Homo sapiens: one gene and its partners. The protein of the gene in region 4 interacts with the protein of the main gene of each other region in a biochemical or structural test. Each region holds a gene or a part of one and is shown on either strand. Other genes may lie near its edges.

What was found.
Region 1: the proteins of NR4A1 (region 4) and ANKIB1 form a complex in vitro, tested with the Homo sapiens proteins (one study listed by BioGRID).
Region 2: of the proteins of NR4A1 (region 4) and MAPK8, one has a biochemical effect on the other in vitro, tested with the Homo sapiens proteins (2 studies listed by BioGRID).
Region 3: the proteins of NR4A1 (region 4) and NDRG1 form a complex in vitro, tested with the Homo sapiens proteins (one study listed by BioGRID).

What each region holds. Positions count from the first base shown.
Region 1 is NC_000007.14:92,243,626-92,248,773, forward strand, and holds the start of ANKIB1 (ankyrin repeat and IBR domain-containing protein 1), read left to right. Parts: upstream 1-2,348; 5' UTR 2,349-2,894; intron 2,895-5,148. UniProt on the Homo sapiens protein: Might act as an E3 ubiquitin-protein ligase, or as part of E3 complex, which accepts ubiquitin from specific E2 ubiquitin-conjugating enzymes and then transfers it to substrates.
Region 2 is NC_000010.11:48,403,300-48,407,676, reverse strand, and holds part of MAPK8 (mitogen-activated protein kinase 8), read right to left. Parts: intron 2,826-4,377; coding exon 2,696-2,825; intron 1-2,695. UniProt on the Homo sapiens protein: Serine/threonine-protein kinase involved in various processes such as cell proliferation, differentiation, migration, transformation and programmed cell death.
Region 3 is NC_000008.11:133,290,753-133,295,129, reverse strand, and holds part of NDRG1 (protein NDRG1), read left to right. Parts: intron 1-4,377. UniProt on the Homo sapiens protein: Stress-responsive protein involved in hormone responses, cell growth, and differentiation. Acts as a tumor suppressor in many cell types. Necessary but not sufficient for p53/TP53-mediated caspase activation and apoptosis.
Region 4 is NC_000012.12:52,053,346-52,057,882, reverse strand, and holds part of NR4A1 (nuclear receptor subfamily 4immunitygroup A member 1), read right to left. Parts: intron 3,557-4,537; coding exon of another isoform or gene 3,555-3,556; coding exon 2,679-3,554; intron 1,854-2,678; coding exon 1,724-1,853; intron 1,390-1,723; coding exon 1,238-1,389; intron 827-1,237; coding exon 624-826; intron 532-623; coding exon 353-531; intron 1-352. UniProt on the Homo sapiens protein: Orphan nuclear receptor. Binds the NGFI-B response element (NBRE) 5'-AAAGGTCA-3'. Binds 9-cis-retinoic acid outside of its ligand-binding (NR LBD) domain.

The sequences.
Region 1 (5,148 bases), on a different chromosome or scaffold from region 4:
CCTAAATAATAATTAAAAAGTGCCTTATGATTGTAAAATTACCCTAAGAAGAAATTCTTTTAAAATACAGTAGCTTTTGGCATTTTACATAAACTTTAGCCTAAGATTAAAACAACCATTAAAATTATTGTACAAAAATTTTAAATAAAATAATTTAAATACTTTTCAAATTTATTTTAAATTCTAAAACTTTCCATTGATTTAGATCCAAAAAAACCCTACAGATATTTCACTAGAAAAAAATACAGTGACACATTAGGATAGAGACATTTCATTGTGTGAAAGGTTTTGAGGACGTTATCATTCTTTATCATTATATACTTCATGAAATTTTTTTCAGTTCAATTTTTTGTATAAAATCATTCTTAAAACCCACCTCATGCAACAGACCTTCCTACATCATGTGAAAAGGATGAGGCCTTTTTCTTCTCAGAATTTCTATTTAGCAATTACTTTTCACCACAGATTAACAATGACTTCAAGATAATAAACGTTTACAAATTATGAGACAGACGCATTGAAGACTGCAAGCCCCAAAAAGAAAGACATTGTATTGTGAATACACTGTATGATATATGGGCACAATTACAGAAACCATTTTATCTATTAAGGACCTAAAAGAAAAATCAAGTAACTCTTACTTTTCTAAAGACAATTTAAAGCAAATCAATTCCTGTCTTGGTCAACTCATGTTAAGAAAACATTTACTAGCAAAGTACTTTGTCAATACTCATCACTTCTCTAGAATATTTAATTAATACTGCACAGAAGCCTGAACTTTTAAAAGGTAAACAAATGTGATTTTAAAAAGACATAACTATGACAGTAACAGTATTTTGTTTTCTTAAACCAAATACTTTTTTACCATATCCCCAAAATATTCTTAAAATTCATTTTCAAGAACTATTCGTACTTGACTACTTAAAATCTACATTCTTCCAGTGACATGAAAGAAGGAAACAAAGGCTTAACAGGAAAATAACAAAAGTAACTAACATAGGAAGGTAAAACTGCTAAGGGAGAAACACAGACAAACTGATAGAAAATGAGTAGCTTGAACTAAAATACAAGAAAGGTATAACTAGAGTTTGCAATATGTTTAGACTGAGTCTGAGATGAGGGTTCAAGTGAATAAGTACAGGAAACGTGGCATTTTGTTATATGGCTCACTCCATTCTGGAAAATGTTAGGCACAAATGATAATATGCTCCCTAAGTAATAAGATCTTATAAATAAAGCAGTGGAAGTGGTCCTTAATTAGGGGGGTGGCACCTACCTGGGATCACTGGAAAATATGGAGGGCATTTCTGGTTGTCACTATGACTGATGAGGGGAGATGTACAACTGCCATTTAGTGTCCATGGAACAGGTTTGCTAACATCCTCTTAGTATGCTAGACAGCGTTTGCAAACAGAAACTGTAAAGGCACATATGCACTCCAGAAGGGTAAGAAAATAATGAGGCTGAGATCCTGAGTTGGACCACCGAGATGAAAGACTTCTGGTGAGGCTAAAAACATGTAGAAAAAGCGATGAAAGCCAAAAACCTTAAAAGGTGGAGAAAAGTGTAGAGGCGAGAAGTGAGTTACAGGGGGAGAAGTGAGTTAGAATGACAAGCTGTGAATCCCTTTCCCTGCAATGACAAAAATACGTAATCACTCTGCCTGGGAGGTTTTTTCCTGCGCCACCACCCGTCAACGTCCACTACTGGGGAAAAACGTAAGCCTCTTTGCTCAAAGAGTTTCCACCCAAAAAGTGGCTATGGTTTCTCTGTAACTACATGTGAAAAATAAACTCCTTGCCTGGGGCAACTAGATGTGGAGATGGTTCAGTCTCCCACCTCCGTTTTCCCTCGCTGGAGTCGAACTTGCTCCTCCTGTTTCCCGAAGGACACCGAGAGGTCCCACCCGTACGGGCTGCCGCGAGTGCCTCTCTGGCCGCTACATTCAACTAAATGGGTGGGACAGTCACCTGGCGAGGGGGGGCAGGGACCGTCACCGCTTTCTCATTCCTCCTTCCCTCCTCCCAGGCACAGCAGCCCGGCCCAGCTTCCTGTGGCAGAAAAACCCTCAGTCGCCAAAAGAAAGCCGTCTTGAGGGTTCCCCCGCGCTCCCACCCGCGCCCCAAAAGCTCAGGTCTCTGGAGTCGGAGACCCTCCTGCCCACCTGCTCTTTACTGTCCTTCCCTCTCCTCGCACCTCAGCACCATTCACCCCTCACCCTCTCCCGAAACTACGGGGTCCCAGGTCTTCAAAGGCCTTAGCTTTCCACCCCGCCGTTACCGTGGCTATGAAATCGCTTCCGGGTTCACACCCTTTGCAGCCTCGCGGTTGGCGGTGAAAGAGCTTCCGGGTCGGCGGCCGGGCTGCTGCCGTTCCTGCTCCTTTTCACTGGACCTGCAGTCTCTCAGGGGCTGGTGGCAGGCGACTAGGAGACTAGGGTGGTGGCGGTGGGGGTGCCAGCGGCTGAGCCGGAGCCGGAGCCGGAGGCGGGGGAGGGGAAGAGGGCGGCCGGGGCTGCGAGCGCGCAAGGCTGGAACATGAGCCGGGCTTGACCGCGAGGCGGAGGCAAGAGCCACCGCCCCCTCTTCCCCTCCCCCGAGTGAGGCGGCGCAGCGGCCGGAGAGGGATGGGGGGCGCCCACCCAGTCTGAGCCTCGCCGCGGGCGCCTTCGGCTCACGCAGCGCTTCCCGCGGGCCGCCAGTGCGCACCCTCGGCCACATCAGCCTCCGCCTGGCGGGTGCACCCGGGCCGGCGAGGAAGGGGCAACCGTCCGGGTGGGTGGGGCGGGCTGGGTACCTGAGGTCACCAGCTCGGCTGTAGAGGCAGGGGCGGCGGAGGCGGAACTGCGGAGTTGCTGGGTCCACCGACCCTTACCCTCAGCGAGAGAAGTAACCGTAAGTCTCAGCTTCGCGGTACAGATGTGTTTGAGGCTGCCTCTACCCATTTGTGGCTCCGAGTTCAGAGCTACCTACTTCACACCCTCCCGGATCTACTAGGAGTGTGTCTGTCGCCTGTTTTGGAGCATTGTTGTTCTGTCTGTCCCCATCCCTGAACAGGCAGCATTCTCTGCCCTACAGGGCTTTTCTCCCAGCGAATTTGCAAGCCTCCGGGTCTCCGTGACGCGTCCCATCCTCCCCATCTGGATGCATCTCCTTGTCCCTCTGTCCTCAAAGGATCTGTGTCCTTCCTCGCAGCCTCCCCCCCACCCCCATCCTTTGAGACGTGGAAAGCCACGGGTTCTGCCGACCTCGGGGGCTAGAGAGAGTCTTGAGAAGCGGATGGGTAAAAGTGCTCTGCAGGGCTGTGATGGGTGGGGATAGGTGCAGATGGCTCCAGTGAACCTTTATTTTTGCAGCTTCTGCCACCAAAACAAAAGAATGGAGCGCTCCCCTGTATTCTTATTCTTCTCCGTATGTATGAGCTGTTTTTCTGTACGTAGCTGTTTGAGTCGCAGGAAATTGAAACTAGAGCTGTAATAAAGCATCTCCTGAGGAGATTTTGAGAATTAGTCTCCCAAGCTCTATTCACACGGAATGGCATATCGAACAATCTTGTATTGGAATGACCATTTCAGAAGAGCTTTACTGGTAGATCTGACAGATAAATGTAAAGATAAGAGTCTGCTGTTTCAAATAGTGTATTTTAGATACCTTTAAATTTTAGTGTTCTAATTTTCATCTAGTTCTTAATTTGTGAAGTATGTGGGTATGTGTAAGGTGTAAAAATCTGTGTATTGGAAGGTTTTGCTTTGTTACAAGCTTTTGCTTTGTTGCTTTTGAGACAGACGTTTAAAGATCATATTAGATTGTATTTGATAATTATTTTCAATCATTAATTCCAGAGAAATCTTTTTTTGTATCAGCCACTCACAGATGTTACACACCTTGGTGCCTATGACCCTCCTGCTGCTTAAACTGTGAATGTCTTCAAAGTATATTTTCAGATTTTTGAACTAGGCGTTTTTTCTCATTAGAATTTGATTTGCTTTTCAAACTGCTCCTGCAGAACTTTCCAGAAATTAGATTTAAAAATAATTTTAATGCTGTCAGTGATTGGACAATAGCTCTTATATGACTTTATGCATTTGCTACTTTTCAGAGCACCATAGGAAGCAAACGATAATTTAAGAATAATTTTACTGTGTACTGCAGGTTGTCATTCTGCAAACTACTGTGTAGTGTAGACTGGTAGCTTTGGTGTTTTGTGTTGCTGAAAAACATTGTCATTTCATTAAGAAAGATGGATGTGTTTAATGACTTTTCCCCCCAACCTCCTTTCAGCAGTTGATTTTGGGCTATTATCTGATTTGTAACTTCTCACTGTTCACAGATTTTAATTTGAAGTAGGCTCAGGAGATGTAGCTCCAACTCTGTCTCTGGAAATGTACTTAGCACAGAAGCCAAGCACTGTGCAGAGTTGAGTGTATTATTAAGGGTGTGGCTTTTGCTTTCTGTAAAATTGTTCAGTTTCTGAATAAGAGTAGGGTGCTATAGTGAGGTGATGGGCGCTATCTTGGAGAAGTCTTAGAAAAAATGTTGTTGATTCTCTTTTCCTTGGGGTAGGATGGGGAAGATAGAACTATATTTTCCTATTTCACTGTTCCCTTGACCACTACACCGAGAATTTTGAGTTTTCAATATGTAAGGAGTCTGAAACTGTGCCAACTGTGCTGTAAACAAGGGCTCTAACAGGTAGGTGACTCCTGAAACATGGGAGGGAAGTTTTGTTAGCCACTCTTTTGTACTCCTGTGGCACTGCCCACTTCTCAAAGAGTGGGTTTTCTTTCCTCTTTCTTTTCTGGGGTATGCACTCAAACTTGTGAAAGTGAAATATGTGTATTTACAACTTGCTTGTAGATAAAAGTGCGAGCTCATTTTCATATATAAGTAGATGGAAGAACTATGAATTAAGTTAATCTGAATGTCCTTGAAATGAAGTTGGAAAAGATTCCTCAGTGCTTTGGGTAATTTTTCCCCCATTGAGGATGCATATGACATTTATTTAGATTAAGTTTTAAAATATTTCCTTCAAATATTTGACACATTTGCCAAAAAGGATTTGGGAGTGGACTAAGTCATTATTAAAGAGACCAGTCTGTGGGAGTTTTTATACATTGATCTAAAAATGTTTAGGTTTTTAATTTACTTT
Region 2 (4,377 bases), on a different chromosome or scaffold from region 4:
AATATACTAAAAACCACTGAATGGTATACTTCAAATGGGTGAATTGCATGACACAGAAATTATATTTCAATAAAGCTGTTATAAAAGAGATTCAAACAGATAGTTGTCCCATTTTTCAAAAAGGGAAATAAAGGAAATTATATCAGTTATAGACTGGACAGCCAAGCAAAAGTCAATGATTAGTAGTGGTATATAACTACTTCAAAAGAAGTAACAATTACCAAGAGCAGGTAAAAGTTCATTGAGAAATACTATTTCCTTCCATGAATAAAAACAACAAAGAACAATAGCAATAAATCAGAAAAATGCAACCAGACACAGTATATGAAGATTTCAAAATGGCATTTTACAAAATGTTTCTAATAATAACATCCATGTGAATAAGATGATGAATTGGAAACAGCTGGATAACTGTGATAGTTAGACACGTAATTTCTGCAATATGCTCAAAAGTTGCTAATGAATTAATCCAGCTATTACAAAGATATCCTGAGCAAAACTGGGAAGTGAAGCCCACAAGTGAAAAGTCAGAACAAGGAAGAAAAAAGCAATCACAGCAATCACTAGTAGACCAGGAAGAGCAACCACATTTCACCTTTGAAATTTAATAGGGAGAAACATGAAGTACTATACTTAATTCTCCATAATCAAAAGAAAAAATATAAAGACTGGGTGAGATGGGAACTGTAAGGCAGGCCTGTAACAAAGAAAGACAACGGGAGTCAGATGGGGACGAAATTTCTAAACAGGGTTTTAATGTCTACAGTTAAGAGATGACATGCCTCAGCTCCTCTCAGAGGATTTGATCAGACGTGCAGTACTGTGTGCTAGGTGGCTTATGCAGTAGTGTGTGCTAGGTCACTTTCAAAGTGTGTTCAGAGATAAACGGCCAAGATTAAAAAAGAAACTCAAGACCATCTATGAAAAGAATGAGAAAAACCAGAGATGCTTAGACCAGTGAAGAGACAATCTGTACAGAGGATGAAATTGTTTAAAAGGCAAAACACTACAAAAACATCCATCCATGGGTGAGTGGAATAATTCAGTTACCATTTCCAGTTTTCCCATATTTAGCTTTATACTCACTCACTGAACAAATATATTCTGAGTACCTACTCTTGTCCACACTCTTCTAGGTGCTGAGAGTTCTGCCTGGATAAACCTCTGCCACCCCTGCTAGAGGCCTAATCATGTGAGACATGCTTAGTCATACTCCATGCAGTTGAAGGAACCACCTTTCTTTGCAGTCACCCAGGCTTGAGAGGTAGGATTAACTGAACTCCTCCCCAAGGAAAAACTAAGGCAACACCACCACTGCCATGGAACTGCGTTCACAGGCCACAAGGGGCACGAGCAGCTCTATCCATGGACAGGATGCCACCAGCAAAACTGTGATGAGCAACACATCAAGTTCCCGCTTGGAACAAGAATGGCTACCACAACTTCCTCCCTATTATTATCTAAGTTTAATCTTTGTCTCTGGACCTTTTTTACGTCATTCTTCCTCTCTGAAGGCTCCTTTCCTTCAACAATCCAATTTTTACCCCATCTTTAAGAGTCAGCCTAGGTCTACTCCTCCCCAAAGCCTTCCCAGTTAATTAAAGCTCACAGAAATCGTCCCTCTTTTTAGATTTCAATATATGGGCCACCATCATCATTTGACAAACGGCCACTGCTTTGTGATGTTTGATATTTAACTCTCTGTATGTCTGTTTTGTATTCAAAACACCATTGTAAGCTCCCCAAATAAAGGGCCTAATCCTGAACTTCCATGATTTTTTTTTCCCTTGATAATGAACCCAGTAACTCCAATACACAGAGGCCTGCACATATTTAGATCTCAAAATGTGGTAAATTGTATTATCTGTAGTCAGAAGGTACTGTGCTCATTATATTATATAAACTCTTTTGGACAAACACTACGAAATGTCTTTAGTCAGATGCCTTCGGTTTAGGACTGCCTAAAAGTGTCCCTTACACAATTCACTCCTAGTTTATTTCCTCAACTGAAGAAATCATTCCATTAGAACAATCACAAAAGTATGAATAAGCTTAATGTAAGTTTAAAAAAGTATAACTGTTTATTCTCAAAATGAGTGCAACTTATATATCTTTATAAAGACTTATCTTTGCAATCATTAGAAAATAGAATTAGAAACATGTTAATACCCTCTAGATAGTTTCAAACACTTTCTGCTAAACCCACTATCCTCATCATAAAGTGATCAGTGAATACTGCCATCACTTAAAGAGGTGGGAGTGGGGTAGGGAGAAGTGATATAAATTTTATATTCAATATGATTAAAGTCAGAGTGTCAAAGCATAATGGGAACAATTTCATCTCTGTGCTAATGCTACAGTTTTCTAAATGTCAGCCTGACGGAGAACAAAAAGCAGAAGATGAGATCAAGCTGAATAAAATTCTTCTCAAACGCTTATCTTTTTAAAACTCCTTTTGTAAATTAAATGACAGGAAATCATATAATCTAAATTTTAGAAGCCATTCTTCTGATACAATTTAATAAAGTTGAGGAAAATCACCCTGTAGATATATATATATATATATATATCCCTTTTAAACAATGTTTTAATACAGAACAATTTAAAGCCCCTAATATTTAGTCTTTGATATTCACATATTCATGAATAAATCTTGATTTCATCTATACTTAGGAAACCAAAAATGTTCACTTACATTTTTGTGATTAACACATTTCATAAGAACTAGCTCTCTGTAGGCCCGCTTGGCATGAGTCTGATTCTGAAATGGTCGGCTTAGCTTCTTGATTGCAACATTTCTTTCAAGAATGGCATCATAAGCTGCGCTGTAATAAGAAATTCAAAAACACACAAAAAAACTTCAAGCAAAAATCTGTAAACTGAATTCATGAAACAGTCATATACATTTCTCACTTTCTCCAAAGACAAGTAACTGGATCCCTTCCAAGTCTATGACGCTCAACATGTGTCTTCTATATCTATTACAACATATATTTTTTTGCAACTATTTCCTAAAATGCTAATGGATCCAAATAGACAGTGGACTATGCCAACAGAGACCCTGCATGTTCGTTGTGTTGCCTCAAAGATCCACCTAGTACATCGTGGGCACTCAATGTACAAATCCATAATTATTTAGCTCCACTAGATAGCCTAAAGCCTAAATAAATCCTTAACCTTGTACTTCCATCAAGAAAAGGTAGGATAAAGAATGCATACGAGGCTGGGTGCAGTGGCTCACGCCTGTAATCCCAGCACTTTGGGAGGTCAAGGTGGGTGGATCATGAGGTCAGGAGATCGAGACCATCCTGGCCAACACAGTGAAACTCCGCCTCTACTAAAATACAAAAAAATTAGCTGGGTGTGATGGTGCACACCTGTAGTCCCAGCTACTTGAGAGGCTAAGGCAAGGGAATCACTTGAACCTGGGAGGCGGAAGTTGCAGTGAGCCAAGATCGCACCACCGCACTCCAGCCTGGTAGACTCCCTCAAAAAAAAAAAAAGCATATAAATTCTACTCAAAAGATTTGCTGAATAATTCTATGTAAACACATTACTTCTATCCTTTTGGACACAATAAAATAAATACAGAAGGGCCAGGCGCAGTGGCTCACGCCTGTAATCCCAGCACTTTGGGAGGCCGAGGCGGGTAGATCACGAGATCAGGAGATCGAGACCATCCCGGCTAACATGGTGAAACCCTGTCTCTACTAAAAATACACACACACACACACACACACACACACACACACACACACAAATTAGCCGGGCGTGGTGGCAGGCACCTGTAGCCCCAGCTACTCCGGAGGCTGAGGCGGGAGAATGGCGTGAACCCGGGAGGCGGAGCTTGCAGTGAGCCAAGATCACGCCACTGCACTCTAGCCTGGGCGACAGAGTGAGACTCTGTCTCAAAAAAAAACAAAAAAACAAAAAAACAAAAAACAAAAAACAAAATCTGAACAGAGAGCTGGCTTTCAGAATCCTAATACTGACTATATAATATGATTTTCTTTAAATTTAATTTATGGTTGGTTAAATGTGGTTGGTTACAATGAGAACAGGCCAGTCAAAACGGCTTACAAAATGACTCCAACTTCTATAATTTTTGATATTGTAAATTACTTCAAGAATGCAGGAAAGATAATAAATGCCATTCTATTATGCAAATTTATTAAATCTTAATACGTTACCATAATTGCTCTGATTTTTTTTTTTTTTTTAGACGGAGTCTCACTCTATCACCCAGGCTGGAGTGCAGTGACACCATCTCAGCTCACCACAACCTCCACCTCCCGGGTTCAAGCTATTCTCCTGCCTCCGCCTCCCAAGTAGCTGGGATTACAGGCATGTGCCACCATGCCCAGCTAATTTTTGTAT
Region 3 (4,377 bases), on a different chromosome or scaffold from region 4:
TCCTGGAGTGTCTGTTTGGGTCTCTTGTGAGGAAGTTCTTTTGGAGCAACAAAGTTTGATCATTTGGAATGGAATAAAAAACTCACACAGGACCTACCTAGTCCAACTTCTTTCCATTTTACAGATGGAAAATGAGGCACAGGGATGGGGAGGGATGTGCCCAGGCCGAACTGAGCTGGAGCTCAGCTTTGTGAGAGGCTCCTGGGTGGGACTGAAGGCAGTGGAAAGGGTTCCTGGCAGGATTTTGCCTGCCTGCTATGGAGGGGCGAAAGGAAATTGCATCTTCATTGAATTTCTGGTGAGGAAACTTTTGAGGCCAAAGGGGCAGAGCGGAATGATTTTTTTTAAGTGTAAATCAGGTGTTCTTGAGAGATTAGCAAAGCCAGCCTGAAGGGCAGGGGCTTAGAGGCTGCAGCCCCCTGAGTTGGCCTTTGACTGAATGGGGCTGCCCCCCCCCCATGACAGAAGACAGATCTCAACTGAGCTGAGGGCCCCCCTGGGTTACGTTGAAATCCGCTGGCCTGAACTTGCCTCCTCATGGACCTGAAAGAAAGATAGCATTGTGTTTTTCGGGTGGCCCAAAGCTGCAGTTCTTCCTTGGGACCCAACCCCAGAGAATCCCATTCCAGATGTGACTCAGAGGCCTTGTCCTGGGAGAGAAAGCGTGATGACTCAGCATCTGAGACTCAAGCAGGGTTCAGGTTTGACTCAGCCTGGAAGGAAGGCCAGGGAGGGACACGACATCTCTCTCCCTCCAGAGCAGCCACTGTCTCCCTCCATCTGCCTTCATCCTCGCAAGAACGTTGCCTGGATCGTATTGCTCCATTGAATGGATGAGGCAACTGAGGCCAGGAGAGTTTCAGGATTTGCCTGTTGCCATATGGCTCAGGTGGGAGAGCCAGACTTTGAACCCGGACAGTTGGACTTCAGAGCCTTTGTTTTTTTTCCATGACAACATGTTGGGGCGCCTGAAGAAATCAGGCTCAAATGAAAAGGCAGTCAGGAGCTCCATGCCTCAGTTTGCTTTTCTGTAAAATGAGAGTAACAGACATGATGCCATCAGAATGTGTAAATATTAATCTGTGTAACCTGAGAACAGCACTGAGCATGTGGAAAACAGCGTGTAGGTGTTTGCCGTCAGTAGCACCCGCAGAAGACATTCTCAAGGCATCTTCTTGGCAGGCAGAGTCTGGGACCCTTTGTCCTAAACCTACCCAAGGCTGTGAAAGTGCCTGCAAATGCTTGACCTAGGTATTGCTTTTTGCTAAGCTTATGTAGGTTGCATAATAGTGTCATGAAAATCTTGTCTGAAATGCACATTTCCAGGCCCGGTCTCCTGCGATTCTCTCTCCATCAGGGGATATGCTGTTGTTTCAAAGCTCCTTTGGCTGGGTTGGGAATGGGGTATCCTGCAGGCAGACAGAGTTGAGAACCTCTGCTCTGGAATGACAGGGGAGAGAAGAAGGAAGGTGTAGTCATACATGCCGCTGTACCTTCAGGCCACCCTGTGTCCACAGTGCCAGGGAATTAGTGAGTGCTCAGTAAATAGCTCTTGTTTGCTATAGTGCCTTGGAGGTTCAATGCATCACATCAGCTAACTGAGGTAGAAGACATTCTTTCCACCTCTCAGGTCAGAAAATTGAGGCTCAGGCTGGTGACTCTTCTGTCCAGAGTCCAGTGAGTGGGGTTCTGCCCAAGGTGAGCCTCCTGAGCCCTTTCCACCCTCCAACATTGCGCTTGGAGGCCACCCACACCCTCTGGGCCCACCTTTTGAGAAGGAGCTTGTTTCCTGGATCCACCCCAGGCTGTTGTTCCTGCCTCCCTTGATGGCTGTGTGATGGAAGTACCGCGTGTCCACTTGCTTTTTATCTTTCAACTTGGAGATAGAGGCAGGCTAGATAGCGGTCTTGGCTGAGAACTTAGCCCAGGCAGGTAGGCAGAAGGGCTGGGGACACTGAGGCCCCACAGGAAGGCGGCTGCAGAGGTAGAGGGCCATGAGTAGGTGCCAACCTGGAGCCGTGTTCTCGGGGTGGGGGCCATGTGAAAAGAAACCTGGGCTCCCTCGGGTGGGGCGTAAGCCCCAGCACTACAGAATGGGAATGGATTACACAATCGGGGCCATAAGCAGGTCTCTTTGACCCAGATCTTTGACTTTCCCACCTAACATTGTTTGCAGACCTGCCTATGCCCTACCTGCCTGGGCTCCATCTCTGACCTTTTGAGTCCAGCGGGTTTTCTTGCAACTGAGCTGGTAGAAAGTGAGGCTCCTTAACAGTCTGGGGGCCTTGAGTGCCCTCCCCAGCAGTTTAATCTTTCCTTTCTTTAAATCTGTGGGGAGACTTTCTGCAGCTATACATTTTAAATCTGCATAGAGTTCTGTTTGAAGAGAGGTGGGTGGGGGCCCAGGTCTCCACCTTGTTCTCCTGCCTTCACCCTCTGCCCCACCCCCACGGAACCTAAGAAGATTCCAAGTAACCCTCTTCAAATATGGATGTGAGAGGGCCATTTAAGAGGTGGGTCTATGGCCTCTCTCAGCTGGGAATGCTTACCATCTCTCCTTCCTCCTTTTTAATCATGGAACTCTCCTCCTTTCTCCAGAAAGGCCTCCTTGGCTGTCCTCTGCTGGAGGGGAGGCTGGGTTGGGTCCTTCCTGGGACCTGTCCATGTCTCCCATGAAACCTGAGAGCCTGTCCTTAGTAGGTGTTGTGTTAGTGGTGGTGGAAAGGACATCTCCACTGATTAAGGAAGTAACTTGGACCATCTTGCATAGACAAGATCGGAGGCCCATTCCGGAGGGTGGAAACTGCAAGACCATTCTGGGGAAGGATCCTGTTAGCGTGGCTAGCATCCCATCTCGGGACAAAGGGTTCTGTATGAGGAAGCCATTTCCTCGTCCTCTGCTAACACTGGCTCCGTTTGTGTGATTTCCACAAATTATCTCAGACCATCCAGCGCAGCTCATGCCTGTCTTGCAATTTCACAAAATAATCCTCTAAGGAGACCAGTGTCCTCCTTTGGACTTCCAGTTATTCACCTCGTCCCCTCAGACGGTCGTCTTCTGTCTGCCAAACAAATTACTCGTGCTGCCAAAACTCCACTGAGAATCTCCAGGAAGATCTCGGTTGTATTGCAGAAAAGAGGTGGGCCCTGACGAGATTCCTGACACCTCCCTCTTCCTGCTGTTGTGTTTGGGACACTCTTGCTGACCTCCCTGGTGCTGTGCTCAAGTTGAACACACAGCAGTTCAGTTTCAGCTCCAGCCCCTCTGGACCCACACCCAGGGAGTGAATGCGGCTTTGGCTTGTTTGAGAGGGAGACAGTGGGGTTCACCTTCTTAGTGATCCCTTTTTCATTCCTTGAATATCAAACATCACTGATGCCTCCTGGGTTTCAGGCTCCACTGCAAAGTACAGGGGCCCTCGAGGAGTTCCTACTGTGGTTTTGTTCTCTGACATTTGTACTGTTTCCTTGATTCTGATTGCTCTGATACAGTTCCCTAACCTCTAAACTAGGGAACTTTCTTGAAGGTCCAGTGAATCCACCCATATTGTTTGCTGAGTTGATTAGTTAAGAAAGACAGTTCGTGAAGACTGCCAACTTCCTCACCCTCCCCAGGGCCTTGAGTTTCAGAAGGGCCAGAAAACACCAAGAGAGCCCATGAACTGCTTTGTAGCTTGACTTCAAAATCTCTTTGGGCAAAGAAATGACAAAGGATTGTATCCACAGTAAGGCAGGGCTATCCAGGGCCTATCTCAAGGTGGTTTTCCTTGAGGTTCAGGCAGAAATGGTGCTGTTCTCGGCAATTTTCTGGGGAAGTTGCTACAGCAAACAGCCACAGCACATGTTGATTTTTTCCCTCCTTTTAAAAATCTGTTCTATAAAGAGCACAATGTGCTGGAGAGAACACTGGCTTTCATGTGGCCTTAAAACCAGGCATGTTACAGAGGGTGGAATCTGGGCCAGTTGCTGTTGGTGACAATCGATGCTACCCTTGTCAGCAATTCCCGCCTGCTCTCCCTTTATCTGCTTCACTGAAGGCCTCCAGGGGACTGTTGTCCGCCCTCCCCCGAGGGAATGAGTGCCACACCTGCACCCACAACAAACCAGTGAGTTTTTCACCTTTCCCTCAGTAGGGAGGAATCTAGACATGTGGCCTTTGGAAGTCAAGTGGGCCTTTGTGTTTGTTTTTGAGCCTCAGGTTACCCATTTGTGAACTGGGTATAATACCCAGCCTCTCCCGGGGCAACCTCCTTGAGGAGCAAGTGAAACAGTGTGCTGAGTGAATGCTTTTCCAAAGCATTGAGTTGGCCGTCTTAGGAAGGTACTATGGGGGAGCTGAAAACAGAGAACCTTCTGGGTGTTGTGAAGGGAGAAAAG
Region 4 (4,537 bases):
GTAAGTGCGGTTTATGAAAATTTACCATTTGTGTACTTTTCTATATGCAGCATAATTGACAGGAAGGTTTTAAAAACAAGCCAATACCCTAGGCCACATACATGACACCTGCAGTCTGGATCCTGACAGTCTGGGACCAAAGGCTGTCTTGCGCTTTAGAGCTGGATGCAGCTGAGCCCATCTGCAATTCCTATGGTCCCTACTTTACTGCTGGCATGAGCCCGGGGCAGTGCAGGGGCCCAGAAAGTGCTAGATCCCGGCCCACCAAACTCCCTGGGACAGTGCCCTCCTGAGAACCAGTCAACCCCCTGACGCCCATTCCCTTGGACCTGGTGTGGTGCTGGTCACTCACCGGTGATGAGGACAAGGGCAGAGAGGCAGGCGAAGGCAGGGACATCGACAAGCAAGCTGTGCAGGGACCTTGAGAAGGCCAGGATACTGTCAATCCAGTCCCCGAAGCCACGGGCACACTGCAGCCGGTGTAGCACCAGGCCTGAGCAGAAGATGAGCTTGCCCTCGCCTGGCTTAGACCTGGCAGGCAGATGGGCACGAAGAGCGATCAGGGTGGTTCACAGGCAGGTGTATCAGGGAAAGGGGCTGGGCAGACAGTCAGTGGCTCTCACCTGTACGCCAGGCGGAGGATGAAGAGCTCCAGGAAGGCCGACTCCAGCAACAGGTCCTGGTCAGCCGGTGACAGCTCAGCAAAGCCAGGGATCTTCTCCGCCCACTTGCGGATGACCTCCAGAGAACCGGAGAGCAGGTCGTAGAACTGCTGTACATCCCCAGCATCTTCCTTCCCAAAGTGGGGCAGCACCAGCTCCTGGAACTAGGAAGACGGTCCAGTGGGGTCAGCACCCCAGGCAGGCTCCTACACCCACTGCCACGTATGGCTGTGTCAGACACTTGGATGCCAGATCCCGGGAGTGGGAGTGGATCTGAGATCCTGCCCAGGCTCTCACTTGCCAAGTCTCACATATTAACCCAGGGCTGCAGCTGCCAAAAGGACATATTTTTCTAATTGGCCACCTGCCTGAGGGGGTGCATTTTCCCATCTGGTCAGCCGAGAGGGGGATCCTCTCTTTGATCTGTCGAACTGGAGGGAGTCGCTTTTCTTTCTTTCTTTTTTAAACCTCCTTTCTCATTCAGTCCTTCCAGAGGGGGTAGCTCTCCTAACACGCACAAAGGCACTGCATGTGCTCATAGACCTCCCCAAGGCAGACACGGGGTGGGACCTCACCTTGGAGTAGTCCAGTTTGGCAGTGCTGGGCCCTGAGTCCAGGTGTGCACGGACCAGGGAAGTGAGGAGATTGGCAGGGGAGGCATCTGGGGGCTGCTTGGGTTTTGAAGGTAGCCGGCCCCGCCGCCCCTTCAGGCTGTCTGTTCGGACAACTGCAAAGGAATGGGTAGGGGTGAGGAAGGAAGGGATCTGAGGAAGGGCCTCTCAGCCCAAGCCGTGCACACCACTGCTGAGACGCGCCCCACCGAGTCCCTAGGACCCAGAGTCCCTGAGATCCAAGGTACCCTATAGGAACCTCCCCCTGCCACCACCCTCACAATCCAGGCAGGTGTAGGCTGCCTCCCTCCAAGGCCTGGGGTTCAGAGGTGGGGTGGAAATAAGACGTGCCCTCCTCTGGGTCCTCCAGGGCAGAAGCCTGGGGGCCCTGCTGGTCCCACTCCACTCAAGCCTACCCTTGCCCCGCTGGGCCGCACCCCAGCCACACACCTTCCTTCACCATGCCCACCGCCAGGCACTTCTGGAAGCGGCAGAACTGGCAGCGGTTTCGCCGCCTCTTGTCCACAGGGCAGTCCTTGTTAGCCAGGCAGATGTACTTGGCGTTTTTCTGCACTGTGCGCTGGGTGGGGGGGCAACACGGAACAAGCTGTCAGAGTGTGGGGTGGGGAGGGGGGAACTTAGGGGAGGGGACCGTCCAGATCCTGCTGCCATTGCAGACAAAAGCGCTCTCTGTTCACAGCTATTTTTCTAACATTTGGGTGGCAAGGGAGGGAGAGACGGGGTTGGGCGGGGGGAGAGAAAAGTCTTGAAGACATTGGGGGAGGTTTCTCGCTCTGAGGAAGTCCCCAGGACACACTACTGGGGGCCAGGGTCTCCCTGGCAGTCTAGACACCTGTATTTTTTCATGGGCCCTTGTCCACCTGCCTTCTCCCTAGGGCAGACAGGAGAGGGCCAAGGGGCTGGGGGGTGGGGACGGGAAGCTAAGCAGGCACCATCGCTGGGACAAACACACAGCCTGTTCCCAAGTCCACCCCCAGCCCTCAAGAACCAAACCCTCCGCAGGGATCCTTTCATCTCACGCCAGGAACATGAGAGCCTGGGGGCACCCCTTCCCACTAGAACCTTGAGTTGGGAGAGGACAGGCAGAGGAGCAGAGGAAAACCAGAGGCTCGCCAGGCACCCCTGCAGCTCCTATCTGCCCCTATCTCACCCCTCCCTCCAGCTCTGTGCAATCCCATGGGCCCGAGTGTCCCGGCAAATGAAAGCTTCCAGCCCTGGCATCTACGGGTCTCCAGGAAGGCGGCCCACCTGGCAGGGCTGATCCCACCCTGCAGGACAGGACTTAGCTAGGAGGAGAACCCAGGGGGAGACCACAGGTCCCAATGGGATGAGGCCAGCCTCTCTCCATTTCCAACAAAAGGCCCCACCTGGGGCTGCGCGGTACCTTGAAGAAGCCCTTGCAGCCCTCACATGTGCGGACACCATAATGCTGGCATGAAGCGTTGTCCCCACACACAGCACAGCGGCCTTCACTTCCACCTGGGGCCCCGCTCCGGGCCTTGGTTGAGGTCACGGGTGTATCCAGTATCCCCGAGCCCTCAAGGTGTGGAGAAGTGGGTGCCAAACCTGGGAAGGCCGTAGGCATGGAATAGCTCTCTCCCTCCCCCAGCTGGTGGGTGGCCTGTGAGGGGAACAACTTCAGGGGGCTCTGGGCCAGGCTGGGGCTGGGGCCGGTGGGAGGACTGAAGGAAAAGAAGGCTGGAGGCTGTGGGGGCCCAGAGGCTTTGGGCAGCTGCTCTGTCCATGCCCGCAGGCCTTCGTAAGTCTGGCTGGGCGAGAAGTGGCCGAAGGAGCCATCCCAGGGAGAGAGCTGGGGCGGCTGGAAGCTGGGCGTGGAGGGCGACGGGGCCGAGCAGGGGCTGCCATAGTAGTCAGAGCCACTGGAGGACAGGGCCTCATCCACTGGGCCGCTCAGGGGGCCGGGGTAGCAGCCGTACACCTGGAAGTCCTCGAACTTGAAGGAGGCAGAGGCAGGGGAGGTGGCTGAGGACGAGGATGTGGAGGAGGCCGAGGAGGAGGCTGAGGAGCATGGCTGGACTGTTCCTGGCAGCTGGTAGAGGAAGGTGTCAAACTCTCCTGTGTAGCCGTCCATGAAGGTGCTGAAGCTGGGCAGGGCAGTGGGGGCAGCGGGGGCTGCCTCGGGGCTGGCCAGGTCCATGGTGGGCTTGATGAACTCAGGGGTCAGGGGGTCGCTTGCCAGGTGGTCACGGGGTCCCGGACTCGGTGCTGGTGTCCCATATTGGGCTTGGATACAGGGCATCTCTGGAGAGAGAGGAGACCCCAGGGAGGGAAAGGAGAGTCAGTGGGACAAGCCTATAGCCTTGTCTCAAAGTATTTGGGCCCCAGAGCAGCAAGGTGGCAGGAATCCCAGCCTAAAGATGAGACAGAGGCACCGGGACCAGAGCACCCAGGAATCCTGACCCCTGGCCTGAGTACCATCTCGACCTAGGTGCCACAAAGCCCCTGGGCAGCGGCCCAGCATGAGTGGGCTCCATCAGAAGGCCAGCCACACCCTAGTCAGCCTGGGAACCCTAGGGGAGGCATACAGCCAGCATTTCTCTGCTAGAACAGGGGGAAGCTGTGTTCCTCCAGCCCCCTGCCCCTCCCCCATGGGGAAGGCATGGTGGGGGCCGGGAGAAGGGTGAGTGGGAGAGGCAGCCCAGCAAAGCCTCAGCCCAGCTCCCAGGAGCAGCTCCCTGGTTGTTTCGCCAACCAGGCACTTCCTGGGAATACTCCCAGGCCTCTGCAAAGCCCCTTTTCTCCTCCCCTCGCAGTGCCTAGGAAGAAGGACATCGTGAAAATGGAAGAGGAGCTGGAAGTGAAAGCCCACCTGCCTAAGAAGGCAGCCTAATGCAGAGGCCCTAGCCTGTCCCCCATTTCCACCCCAACCCTGCACACTGAGCAAAGGCAGCAGATCCCAAACCCACCCCAATCCTGCCATCTGGGGCTGGGAAGCCACTCTGCACTGCTCGAGATGCTCCCAGAAGCAAAGAGGAAGGGAACCTAGGCCTCCTCATCGGTAACCTGGCTCCAGACCTTTAAAGGCCATTTGCTGGGGACAGGGCAAGGGGGGAGGAAGGAGACCACAGCCCCCTGGACTCTCAGGAGAATGGACAACAGTACCTAAAAAGAATGTTCTGCTGCCCCCAGTTATCTTAATAAGAGAACTCTGAGAGTCCAGCAGAAGACTTAAGGAGAAGCCTGCTGGTGGGTGGGTGGAAGACATTCTGCCCCTGCCTGGGT